4 separate regions of the Homo sapiens genome follow, and all the other regions are reported to be linked to region 2. The links are microRNA targets in miRTarBase. Many come from high-throughput screens and were not tested one by one. Region 2 holds a microRNA gene; each other region holds the end of a gene's coding sequence.
Evidence for each region. The annotated mature microRNA hsa-miR-1207-5p reads UGGCAGGGAGGCUGGGAGGGG and lies in region 2 at 1,037-1,057, shown strand. An mRNA with a match to its seed (bases 2 to 7 or 8) in the 3' UTR can be bound and repressed. Matches are read on the target gene's strand: a 7mer-m8 pairs with bases 2 to 8, a 7mer-A1 pairs with bases 2 to 7 and ends in A, and an 8mer does both.

Region 1 (3,124 bases), not on the chromosome of region 2:
GATGGTCTGGGATCCTGGCTGTAGCAAATTAACATTCCTGTCTCTCAATTTTTTTCTTCTGTCAATACCTACCTCAAAAGGTTGTTGAGGGTGAATGAGATGATACCTAGAAATTACTCTGAACAGTGCCTGGAATAGAGTGAGCATCCAGTAAATTGGCTGCTATGACTATTATTAAGAACACCCCAATATTTCCCAGCCACAACTGCCCCAACTGGGCAGGCCATCAACAGCCAACAGGTATGATATGGGGAGTGGTCTTCCATGTACAAAGCTTCTGGTTCCTTTCTTTCTAAGAGATAAATGCAAATGACTCAAGATCTTCTCACAAAGACCATGTACCCATAGATATGGAGTCTCCTGGGGAGAATGATAACCCCTTTGGTACGCTGCAGACATGAGGACCCTACATCAGGAGGTCCTAGCTAGGACAGTCAGTCACCAACCCTGTCACCCTTCGCGTCTACTACATGAAGCATGGGCACAAGAACAACAACCTGGAATTTAAGAACTTTTTTTACTCTGAAAGGAGAGCTAAACAAACCTCTGTTCTCCAAACACAAGATCTCCATCTTCCATGCAGTGAAGAGACCACAGGCTTTGTAAGCAGACCAACTTGAGCTCGTTTTAGAGCAAATCACTGTAACCCTCTGGACCTCACCTTCCTCATCTATATAGAAATGAGAAAGGGGTGCACAGGAGAAGGGAGAGAAGATAATATCTCACTGAATTGTTGTGAGGTTTGAATGAGGCAGGGTGGGGGAAAAGCACCTAGCATAGTGCTTAGCACATCTCAAGCACTGAACTGGTGCTGGTCCCTCTGTCCAGAGATAGGGCCATGGCCTACAGACAAGGTGAACTCATAGTGTCAGAACTCAAAGTCTCAGATACTGAAGGCTTGGGTCCCTCCCTGCCTCCCTCATCCCTCCCAGACCAGCTCCTGGACCCCCTCCCTCATGTCCCAGGCTGCTAAATTGATGAAGCTAAAAGGGTTTTGATCATGTCGGTATATTTATATGTAAATACAAAACTGTATCACTGTAAGATATTGAATATGAACATTACAATTATTTTCTGAATCAGACTCAGTCCATTGATATTAAATACAAAATGAAATGATTGTAAAAAATAATAATATACACATTCAAAGAGCTTATTACAGTATAAAATTATTGAGGTCTGATCAGCTGCCAACCTCATCTTCTGTCACAGGGGAAGGTTTAGGAGTTCCTGGGATTTTTTGGGAATGTGGAGTGCTGAGGACTCTTGATTTATCCCTAGCACATAAGGATGAGTGGGCTGGGAGCAGGCAGGGACAGGTTGGGTGGGTAGGGGACAAACAGTGATTGCAGGGGACCACCTCACTCAGCCAGGGGGTGAAGCTTTTTATTGACACAGAACCCACCCAGTTTGAGGGTCTAGCAGGCTAGCAGGCAGGAAGAGATGGGCATCTCGGTAGACAGGGCCAAGCTGCATAAAGGAACCATCCAGCAAAAGAAAAAGGGCCCCAGCTCATCCTCCCAGGGAGGTATTTTCTTAGTGGTTTTTTCTTTCTCATACCTGGGCTCCCCCTCCTTCCTTCTAAGATTCGTACCGATTGCATTTGGCTCTGGCTGCTCAGTGAGTTCATCTCTACCCTCCGCCTCCCATCCCTGGGATAGTGAAAGCAAAGAGAGAGTATGGAATCACAGTGGAGGTCTGTTCCCCAAATTGGCCAAGTAAATGTAGAAAAATCATCGGATAAGGGAAATCCATGCTGAGCTAACCCAGTGTCACCACAAACTAATACATTCTTGGCTCCAACAGGTGGCAACTGGAAGGAGATAAGTCATTACTTAAGGAAGGGGCCCTGTGGCAGGAACATGGAGGAGATGTGTGTGTGTCCTCTTCCACCACTCTGTAGCCTGACAAGAGGAGACATGATCACCAACCCAAGCTAGTCCAGGATAAATAGTAGGGTCCAAGAAGCAAGGAGTCCTGAACTGCAACACGGAGCCCCAGGAACTTCTGGAAAGGAGTATCGTGTGTATATGTATTTATAGAATACGATCATATTATCACATACAATATATATTATATACACACGTACATATGGACCCATACACATAAGTGCACACACACACACACACAGAATGACAGAAAGGACTGGAATACACGCCCTACTTATAAACGTGCTTGGCACTCAGGACGATCTCTAGAATATGTAACTTGGTCAAGCTCTCTGGGGAGAAAGGCAAATGCTCATCAAACCTCCCCATAAAATCCTAGGAAAGGGAAGGAGTGGGAGACAGGAGACCTCAGAAAAAGAATGGCGGGAGAAAGGAGGAGGGAGGTTCCTTCCCCACTTACCTCGGGGACCCTAGCAAAAATCAATAGCCACAATTTGGTTTTAATAAGGCACAGTTTGATAGCAGATGCTAGGAATTAAGAACACATTGCTACTGGCCCTTTCTAGTGGCAATTTCACCACATTTATCTAGCCAAAGGGAAAGGCTGCCTTGCGTGCACACGTGTGCTGGGAGACACAAGAAAGAAGTTGATCCATGGCTTCAGCGTAACTGATGGCAACCTATAGGCTCAGCGGTGTCCAGGGTAGTTTAAGGAAGGCTGGCCAACAGGTAGGAGGTTCGTAGGAGAGTTACTGACTCTCCACGGCCAGCAGGTTTTGGCCAGAGGATACCATGCCCTCCTTCTCTGCGAACTCCAGGATGGCCTTGTAGCAAAAATAGTACTGCTCAGGGGTCTGGATGCTGAAGGCCCTCTGGGTCCTCATGCGTGACACCGTCTGGAACACATTAAGGGTGCCAAGCTCCTCCAGCTGTGCCAGGCAGATGTCCAGTGAGCAGAAGGTACCTGAAGAAGGAAGGAAGTGATCACATCTGGTTTACCTCTCTTCTCTTCCTCCCTCTACCAAATAACCCAGGCAGAACTGAATGAATGACTTCACAGGCAAAGTGCCTCATGGCAGAAGGCCAGGTGGCCTTAGGCCTGAAAGGACTCAAGAAGGAGGTCACAGGGAGTGTTGGAGGCCAGAGAAATGAGAAGGCCTCTTATTTCTCAGGACATACACTTGGGGTAACAGGAAGTGGAAATGGGAAGGTGACACAGGGGAACTTCCTGCTTC
Region 2 (3,124 bases):
TATTGCCTCTTTACTGACCTGTAAGTCAGTTCTAGAAGACAGACGATCCATGAAGGCAGGTCCTAGCCTGCCCATTTGCATTGGTATCTCCAAGGCCAAGCTAGAGAAGGCACACAATAGGCTTTCCACTAATATTTGTGAATGAATGAATGAACAGAGAGAGGAGTTTTCTTTCCACAGTTTCCTTCTACCTGCTACTCCTTGAGCATATGAGGCTGGAATCTAAGCCCTGAGGTCACTCACTGCTCTCCTGGGTACTATCCCTGGCCTCCCGTCCTTTTCCTTGAGCTTCTGTGCTCTGCAAGGCTTTCTCATTATCCTTTAGGCTACAGAGAAACAAGGAGACGGGAGAGCCTTGAAATGGACCTTCAAGATTACAATGTGTAGCTGACATTGTCAGTTAAGTTGGGCAGATCTGACTTCGCTGATTAAGTGGATGTATGAGCCGATCCTCCCCAGAAGCTGGGATCAGCTTCCCCATCTGATGGTGAGTCAGACCTGCTGGGGTTTGGGTCCTCGCTCCAGCATGGCTGCCTGTGTGACCTTGGCCACTTTACTTAACCTTGCTGAATCTCAATTTCCTGATCTGTAAAGGAAGCTAAAAATGCCTCTCTTGAGGTTGTAGTGAGGATTAAATGTGATAGCATAAGTGAAAGTGCCCTTTGAAGAAAGAGGAAGGCGAAAGCGCTTATTGTGTCAGGAGAAATGTGTGGAGAGCCCCCTGTTGTTCTCAGGTGTCTCATCCTTCCCAGGGAAAAATCCCCATGCCAAGTCAGAAGAGGTTATAATTTGGCTCTTACTCTTTTATTCAGGCACTTCTTTCGGCTGCCCAGGGTTTTCAGCTTAAGCAAATAAATTACCCTTCTCCACTGGACTCTGTGTTCTGCAGCCAGCCATATGTTTAAGCTTGATAGAGATTTTTATCTGGCTTGGTAATATTACCCAGCAAGGGATGACATTTCTTATCAGAGGCCCTGAGGAATCAGAGATAGGAGCCCTTTCTTTTTCCTGGCCGCCAGGCCTCCATGTGCAGGGCTGGCAGGGAGGCTGGGAGGGGCTGGCTGGGTCTGGTAGTGGGCATCAGCTGGCCCTCATTTCTTAAGACAGCACTTCTGTTAGCTGACCTACACAGAAGCAGGTCATTTCGAGATGTTTGCGTCTTGGAGCCACTGATAGAAGCAGGGCAAGGGAGAGTGAATGAGGAAGGAAGGCGGGAGTGTGATGACGCATGCCCAGCTTTGCGCGGAGGCAGAGCACTTGCCTGTGTGGGGCCCTGCCCTTCTCTTGAGAGGCAGGCGGGCCCTAGCTGCAGCGTCAAGGTCTGGGGATTCTGTGGCTCTGTAGGGTGAAGGGCACTGGAGACCTACCAGGGGCTGGGCCATTGGAGTGGTGGGTGCTGGGGAGCTTCCGTGGGCCCCTCCAGGTCCACTCCTTGCTCTTCTCTGCCTTGTTTTGTGCCCAGAAGGCTGACCTGTGTGGATGCATTATCAGGGTGGATGCAACACAGGGCTGCCATGCTCTCTGGTATCAGTTTGGAAGGCACTGGCAGGATGGGAAGGCAGGCGGGGAGTGAGGTCAGGGGGCCTATCCTTCCACTGCCTCCCTGCTGCTCCCTGACTGATTCAGGTAAGGTTTACACCGGGGCTCTAGGTTTGAATTTTGATTCTGGCATGTACTTGCTGTGTGATATTAGGCAAGTGGTGGAACCTCTCTGTGCGTCCGACTTCTCATCTATAGTAACGCTTTTGCATTCCATTGATCTCTTTGCCTCTCATTTGCCCTGAATGCTGAAGGAAAGGACACTGCTGTATCCCCTGAGGGACTGTCTGAGCCCAAAGTACACTGGGGACAAGGGCTTCAGGGTGGGCAAGGAGATGACCGATGATCACGTGATTTGGAACTATAGCCTCCATTGGAGACACGTGCTCTGGGCTCTTTCCCTCCTGAGTTTTGGGAAGTCCTGGCCTGTGCAGCCTAATTCTCAAGTACTAATCTTGCAATCATAAGAAGAGGAAGGAGAAGTGGTTTTCCCTCTCCCTGGACCCATTCCAGCCAGCAGTTCCTGACTTTGCTTCCTTCCTGTTGGTGCCCACTCTGTTTCCTTCCATCCCTTCCCCAACCTCTCCCATCCCATGCCTCATGTTGGGCAACTTGAGTTTAACTGTCTCTTCTTCCAGTGGCCAAGTCCAAATTCTGAAAGCACAGTTCTGACCATGTCCCTGTCCAACTCAAAAACAGTAGCTCCGTGTCACCCACAGGCTTGAAGTCAGACCTCTCAGGGGGCATTAAGTCCACCGCAACATCACTCCAGCCTGTGAATAAAGACTGAATGCCTCCGAGCCTCTTATGTGGGGAATCAGTTCTGGTAAACAGGTCTCACTTCTTGTCTTTTAAACACTACTTGCTTTCCTTGACGTCTGTGCTTTGATCCCATTGTTTTTTCTCCCTTGGATGCCTGAGAGATCCATGGGCTCTGGCTTCAGAGAGTGCTGGGTTCAGACCTCAGCTCCAACAGTTGCTGGCTCTGTGACCCTAGGAATGTCACCTCACCACTCCAAGCCTCTGTATCCTTGACATTAACCTGGGCTGATAGTTCCTACCTGCAGGGTTCTTGTGAGAAGAACCTGTCTAAAGGCTCCTACTGGGGCTTGACTTGTCAGATAAATGAATGGGGTTTTCCCTAACCTTCTAATTGACTACCCCACTGATTATTCAAACTCCACCTGTCCTCAAGTTCCATTCCATCATTCACTTCCTCTGTGGGTTTTTCTGCCACAAAGTCATCTTCCTCTGTTTGAAAGACTCTTAGTTCCTCATGTATGACAGCAAGAGTGGACCTCATCTCTTTCTTTTTGTGTCTGACTTCCCAGCACAGTCTCAATTTCTTCAGGGCATTGACTGTGGTGTAAGATTCTCAGCTTGAGCACTGGAACCATTTATGGGACGATTGAGTATTCAACTCCAAGAGAATGAAAGAGAGTCACTTGTTCTTTCATTGAACGAAATTGATTGAGTGCACATGATATGTTGTGTCTGTGCTTCACACTGGAGTTGTAAGGATGCATAAAATGAAGATTCTGTCTTCACATAGCCTATCATCCAGTGAGGAGGTTGCATTATTGGG
Region 3 (3,000 bases), not on the chromosome of region 2:
CTCTTCTTTGGCCTGGACATATCAAGGCCAAAGATATGTCTCATCTTTGAGACATTAATGCCATTGTCACTCCCATATTTTCTCTGCCCTCCTCAAAGGCCTGCTGACTTTCCCTGATGGTTCTCATGGAATCCCCCGCAATGAAGGTCTCTTTGAGAACAACAAGCTGCTGCGACGTGAGAAGTGTTCTGCCATTGTTCAGCGGGCCCAGAGCGCCTCCAAGTCAGCCAGAAATCTCACTGCCTGACAGCGCAGTGGGCACCAGCTGATAAGTATTGGGTAAAGCCAGTGCCCCTGTTGTTGATTCGAGGTGAACAAATGAATCAGAGCTGAGATGAGTTGACAATGACAGTGGAGCAGAGGCCTTGTATGTGCCCTGTCACCTGCCATTCCAGAACTGGACCACAGAAAAGTGCTGAGGATGCTGGCCAGCAGACCCTGCAGCAGTCATTGGTGGTTCTGTCTTTCCCTAACCCTTATGTGCTGGAGGACAGAGGAGCCACCTCTTCTCACTGGTTGATACTCTGTTCCTAAGACCTCAGGTTACCCAGTGTAGCCTGCTGTGACCCTTCTGCTTCATTTTCTGCCAAGTGATACAGAACCTTCGTTCTGCTGCTTTGGGGACAGGTGATCCTAGCCCCAGCTTAGGGCCAGTGCTCTGTGCCACTCTGGAGAAATAGGGAAAAGATAGGGGTGGCTCAGTACAGCAGCCCTGTGAAAGTCAAGGCCAGAGCTTTTCTTTTTTAATTTTTTTATTATTATTATTATTATTTTATTTTTTATTTTTGAGATGGAGTTTTACTCTCGCCCAGGCTAGAGTGCAGTGGCATGATCTCAGCTCACTGCAACTTCTGCCTCCCAGGTTCAAGCAATTCCCCTGCCTCAGCTTCCTGAGTAGCTGGGACTACAGGAGCGCGCCACCACACCCAGCTAATTTTTGTATTTTTTTTTAGTAGAGACGGGGTTTCACCATATTGGCCAGGCTGGTCTCAAACTCCTGACCTCGTGATCCACCCGCCTTGGTCTCCCAAAGTGCTGGGATTACAGGCGTGAGCCACCACGCTCAGCCTTTAATTTTATTATTATAAAAAATTGAGCCAGGGTCTTGCTATGTGGCTCAGGCTCATCTCAAAATCCTGGGCTCAAGTGATCCTCCTGCCTGGGCCTGCCAAAGTGCTAGGATTGCAGGTGTGAGCCACTGTGCCTGGCTGGCAGAGCTTTTCCATATGTTACTCCTCATGCTGGTTGGAATCATGGCTGCAGGCTTCCACTTGGTCTGATCAGACTGGTATTCATTCCTGCCTATGTCCCCGTGAAGGATTCGGTAAGAGTGCTATTTCCTCCTCCCTTTAGAAGACAGGCTGTCTTCTTTCATCAACTTAGAGCAGATAATCCCCATGTGTGCCTCTCTCCTTCCTTAGATGGGGAACAGGATCCCTTTTTGGGACAATCAAGAAAAAAACTCATGTAAACAGTAATCTTATTACTTGTATTTGTGACTAACTCCAGGGAAAAGGGTAGAATATTTAGGCCACTTCAGGCACTACCATGGAGTGAACTGAATTCATACGGATGGCTTGGGCTGACACAGTTTCTTCCCAGTGGACCAATAAATCAGACTCACCCGAACCCCTGGGGTTTTGGTAGAATTGGACCTACTCTAGGACTGTGGGGAACTAAAGGAGCATTTGGCTCACTGTAGCTCTTCTATCATGAGCCTTGACCGTCAGGCCGCAATCAGACCTTACTGATGGGATCTCTGCAGTTTATTACGTAGGCCTCCCGTTACCCTGGTACCCAAATACGTCCCCCACCTCTAGCTCCCTAGCCTCACATTGAATGTCTCTTCAACAGCAGATTGTGGTGGAAGTTATAGCCGTGTGCCTCTATTTATTCTCTGAATTGTACTGTAGAAAAAGGTGTTTATAAAGAATAAAGAAATCACCAGAACTGCCTATACCTAGTTTTCCTGACTTTCTGGCCCTGCGTCTTCATGAATATCAACCCATTTGCTGTTTGTAAAAGTTAATCGGGTTAGCCCTTGGAACTGACCCTGCACACTTTATCAAGTCATCTAATTTTCTCAGCCTCTACAGAGGAGGACGTATGAACTTTTTTTTCTTATTTAAATCAGACAATCTCAGGCTGTCCCAACTAGTAGGTAGCACAGCTGGGTGAGATTTGTAACCGAGCCTTTCTGATTCCAGCTCCCTTTACTGGACCTCTCTCACCCTGAGCATCAGAGTACTTAAGTCCTGAGACTAGTTATGGCCACACCTGCTGGGTTACCTCTGGCAGGTCCACTCCTGCCGGAGTTTCCCTTTTTCTGCAACAGGAGAGTGGTGGAACATTGACCCCCACGCTAACCCTTTTACATGCACGTCCTTGTTGGAGGAAGGTACTATTATTATCCCTGTATTACAGATGAGGCTCAGGGAAGTTAAGCAGTTTCTCCAAGGTCCCATAGACACTAAGGGGCAGATCCCAGAACTTAAACCCAGACCTGTTTAAGCCCAGAGGCTGAGCTCTTACCCAGTGCACTACCCTGCCTGCCTAGCCCTAACTTTTCCCCCAAGTCCTAAACTTGATTCTCCTCTGAGCCTTGCTCCTCTGGAAGTTGCCTGTGAGAGGACCCCAGGCACTAAGCCCCAAGCTGTAGTGCCATTCAGAGCCTGGTTTTGGGTTGAAGATTGAGATCTTTTATTTTCTCTCCTTTAGCCTCTGCCCTAAACAAGTATCTATTTACCTCTCTTTTTAACCTTACACTTTCTTTTAAGGAGTAATTTTTTTACAATGTATCTCCATTTTTCTGCCACTAGTCAAATATTACCACTGAAAAAGGTTAAATATTTTGGAGAAAGCATCCTTTTTTGTTGTTGTTGTTGAGATGGAGTTTTGCTCTTGTGGCACAGGCTGGAGTGCCATGACACGATCTCGGCCCATTGCAACCTCCACCTCCCACGTTCAAGCGATTCTTGTGCCTCAGCCTCCTGAGTAGCT
Region 4 (3,112 bases), not on the chromosome of region 2:
GGAAAAAATTAATGAATATATGTTTAAACTCCCATCATTTTGCTGTTTTGGCTTATTTATATACTAATAAAATTATTTCTGATAAGCACAAAGTCAATGTATTTACGTACTCTAGAGACGTCTGAGGACTTCTCAAGAAGTCAATCCCTGAAGCACGTCGTCTACTCAGGCTCACGCAACTAGCATCAGACACCCCACCCTGGGCCAGCACCTTCCTCTCACTGCCACCAGAGGCTACAGAAAGAGGTGCTTGTGGTTAAGGTTTTCCAAGGTTAGAGCTAGTCACCCTCCCACAGAAGACCACTAACCATTAGGAAGCCACTTGGCAACCTCAACCTCAGTGAAGCTGTTTGGATGAGTTGCTGCAGAGGGATGTCACAGTTTGTGACTCGCACTCCCAAGGGGAAACATTCTCATTGCTCTCAGTAGAACGCTGACTGCAGTCTATGTGGTGAAGTCCGCCAAGTCATGAATGGCTAAAGACCAGTGAAGCTGCCAAGTCATTCCTTTTGGACTAACCTCCCAAAAGAAGAGCTCCAAGTATAAGAAGAGTAGCTCCAGAGCCAAGGTGAGGAGAGCTGGCGTCTACTCCTTCCCTTCCAGCTCAGCACTCCAGCTGACCTTCCCACACCAGCGAGGCAGCCACAGATGACTGAGACCACAACTGCAGGTTGTACGGGTTTATTGTTCCAATACCACAAGAGACATACAGAAGCAGTGCTTTCTCTGGGCAGCCTCATGGACCAGATCAGTGTCAAACTGTACCCTTGAGTGTCCCCAAAGGTTCCAGCAGAGGGAAGAAGAGGACTGGACATGTTTGGGCCCCTGTTCCCGGTCTTTGGTAAACAGACGCTTAAGTTGACAACTTGGACTTGGCCAATACTGCATTCTAAATCACCACATCATTCCCAACTTGTCACTCATGCTTCAGATGACGAAAATGCCACATCAGATTAAATGAGAAAAAAACCTTTCAGATAAAATGAGACTTGAAGTCATACAAATTTTATACTTGATCTAAATTAAGCAAGAACCCTCAACTCTGTAATAAGTCGAAATACAAGATATAAGGCAGGAAACAAGGCAAGGGAAAACACACACAGGGGCATCTACTTGCTGGAAACATGTTGGGAGAGAGGCAGGAGCAGGCATGGCTTTGTTTCTTCCCAAACCTGCCTGATGTCAAAAGTACGTCAAAAGGAGCCTCACAGTCCCAGGAGAGCATGGTCCCAGGTATTGCTGTGACAGGTGGTGACCCTGGAGCCAGATCTGGAAGGCCTTCCTGGGGGCTGCCCAGGGAACTCACCCATGAATCCAGAAGCACTTAACACTGGTGGTGGTGATTTGTCACATATGGCAGCAAGCAGCCATTAAGGCTGTAGGAGGAGAGATGTGAAAAGCAAGATGCGTTTGCTCGGTGGCATGTGGGCAGGCTGACTGTGGCTCTGCAGGCTGCAGCAGGTCCAGCCGGTGACCCAACAGGGCATCGGGCAACCTGGCAGGTCACAAGTCAATCATTTCACCCTCACGTCGAGCAGCACAGCACTCAGTGGCTCTGACAACAGATGTAGAGAAGGAGATTACACCACTTTAATGCAATGATGCTGAAGATGTAAAATTAGGAAGAGACGTTCATGTTCTCTGTACAATACATCCATTTACAGAATCAGCCAGTACTGTGTACAACATATAAATACATGATAAAACATTAGAGGTGCATAGAGCATACTTACAGAAGCCAAAAAGTTCACTTTATACATCCAAGAATAAAGAGTTAAAAATATAAAAATAAGAAACACACACTGCTTTGAAATGTAAAATGACTTTCACATACACAGGTGCGTGGAGATGCCCACTCCCATAGGGTCCAAAGTGACAGGGAGGATGTCAAGCAGAGGAATTCACCTGCAAACATCTGGACGGCTGACTCACAAGGTCTACAGATGGCATTTTCATAGGAAAGACAACCCTATTCCCCAACCCCATTGTCCAAGCAGAGCTATTCAAGGTTCCAAATGATCCTGTGGGTTAGTGGATCACACTGAGACAGAAAAGTTCCAAATTTGCTTCAGCAACAGAACCAAGGTCAAACTTGCTCCGTCAACTGGCAAATGACTCAACTGTGACCCTGAGGTCAGCAGGTGCACCAGCCCCCTGGTGGGCAATGCCAGGAGTTACTTTAACCCTGTGCTGGCTTCTTTCCTGGCCATCAACTCCCCAAAGTAGCAGAAGAAAAGATGGCAGGGAGGGGGTAGTGGAAGACTGGCATTTCTACTTAGTTCAGGTAGGTTAACTCCCTTGGTGGAGAATGCAACCTTCTTGCTTCAGTTTCAAGTCCCTCTGGGAGTCAGGCAGTCCCCCCACCCCCCGCAACCCCACTCCGTGCCACATCAGGCTCTGTCTTGCAGGAGAGCTCAGGCTGGCTGGCCTTGGGCAGCCCAATGGGTTATACCCAGGAAACCCCTCCAGCAAGACCAGAAGGGTCGCCAAGTGACAGAGGGCTTTAGCAGTGTAAATTTTGGGGGAAGGCAAGAGTGCTCCTGCCTAAAGAGTATTATATCAATGATATTCTGTATACAGATTTAAGATCAATCATTATCAAAATACACACACTAAATATACAATGTTTCCCATGGCCATAATTTATTATCTCACCACAAGGCACAATACACAGAGCTTTGAGGGTCCAATACAGTCATCGTGACAGAACGCACCGCAGCCTTGGCACATGATCATGGCTTTCAGGCTGCACGCACACTGGAGCGAGATGCTTTCCACCGTGCTGCTGTCAGTGAACATTTGCAAGGAAAGTGATGCACTGTGGCTCGCACCAAAGTTTGCTTTGTGGCTCAGCTGCACCACACTTCCAGCAAGGCCTTTGGGAAAGGTGGGAGAGCTAGAGGAATAATTAAAGCTGGTGGAACTCAGTTGGAGTTTAGAAAGCTTCCCATAAAATGCCTGCTTGATGCTGAGTTGGGAGGGGAGAGAAGAAGGCTCCAGAGGCTCACTGAGCCCCTTCCCTGGCTCTCGGGGTAATTTCCAGAAGGGCAAGTCCATGACAAAGGGCATCCCTTCCAAGTGACCCACCAGTTCCAGGGGACTATGCCCAGTA

Region 1: the mRNA of PTPN9 is a reported target of hsa-miR-1207-5p. Seed matches in the 3' UTR shown: 7mer-A1 at 1,853-1,859, 7mer-m8 at 1,309-1,315 and 7mer-m8 at 751-757.
Region 3: the mRNA of MORN4 is a reported target of hsa-miR-1207-5p. Seed matches in the 3' UTR shown: 7mer-A1 at 383-389, 7mer-m8 at 876-882 and 7mer-A1 at 1,165-1,171.
Region 4: miRTarBase lists ASXL1 as a target of hsa-miR-1207-5p. Seed matches in the 3' UTR shown: 8mer at 2,239-2,246 and 7mer-A1 at 1,497-1,503.

The regions. Positions count from the first base shown.
Region 1 is chr15:75,466,131-75,469,254 of GRCh38, forward strand. PTPN9 (protein tyrosine phosphatase non-receptor type 9) reads right to left here. Exons shown (of 13, transcript NM_002833.4): 13 at 1-2,853. The coding sequence ends at 2,639. Among named protein-coding and RNA genes, the nearest start is that of SIN3A, 16 kb to the left of the region's middle.
Region 2 is chr8:128,048,123-128,051,246 of GRCh38, forward strand. It overlaps MIR1207 (microRNA 1207), which reads left to right and starts at 1,030; the gene lies at 1,030-1,116. The region is part of intron 6 of PVT1 (Pvt1 oncogene); the gene reads left to right. RefSeq lists enhancers at 109-2,225, 745-1,290, a silencer at 373-556 and a cis regulatory region at 1,169-1,421.
Region 3 is chr10:97,613,510-97,616,509 of GRCh38, reverse strand. It overlaps MORN4 (MORN repeat containing 4), which reads left to right. Exons shown (of 5, transcript NM_178832.4): 5 at 99-1,955. The coding sequence ends at 247. Among named protein-coding and RNA genes, the nearest start is that of MORN4, 18 kb to the left of the region's middle.
Region 4 is chr20:32,436,873-32,439,984 of GRCh38, reverse strand. It overlaps ASXL1 (ASXL transcriptional regulator 1), which reads right to left. Exons shown (of 13, transcript NM_015338.6): 13 at 666-3,112. The coding sequence ends at 2,647. Among named protein-coding and RNA genes, the nearest start is that of ASXL1, 80 kb to the right of the region's middle.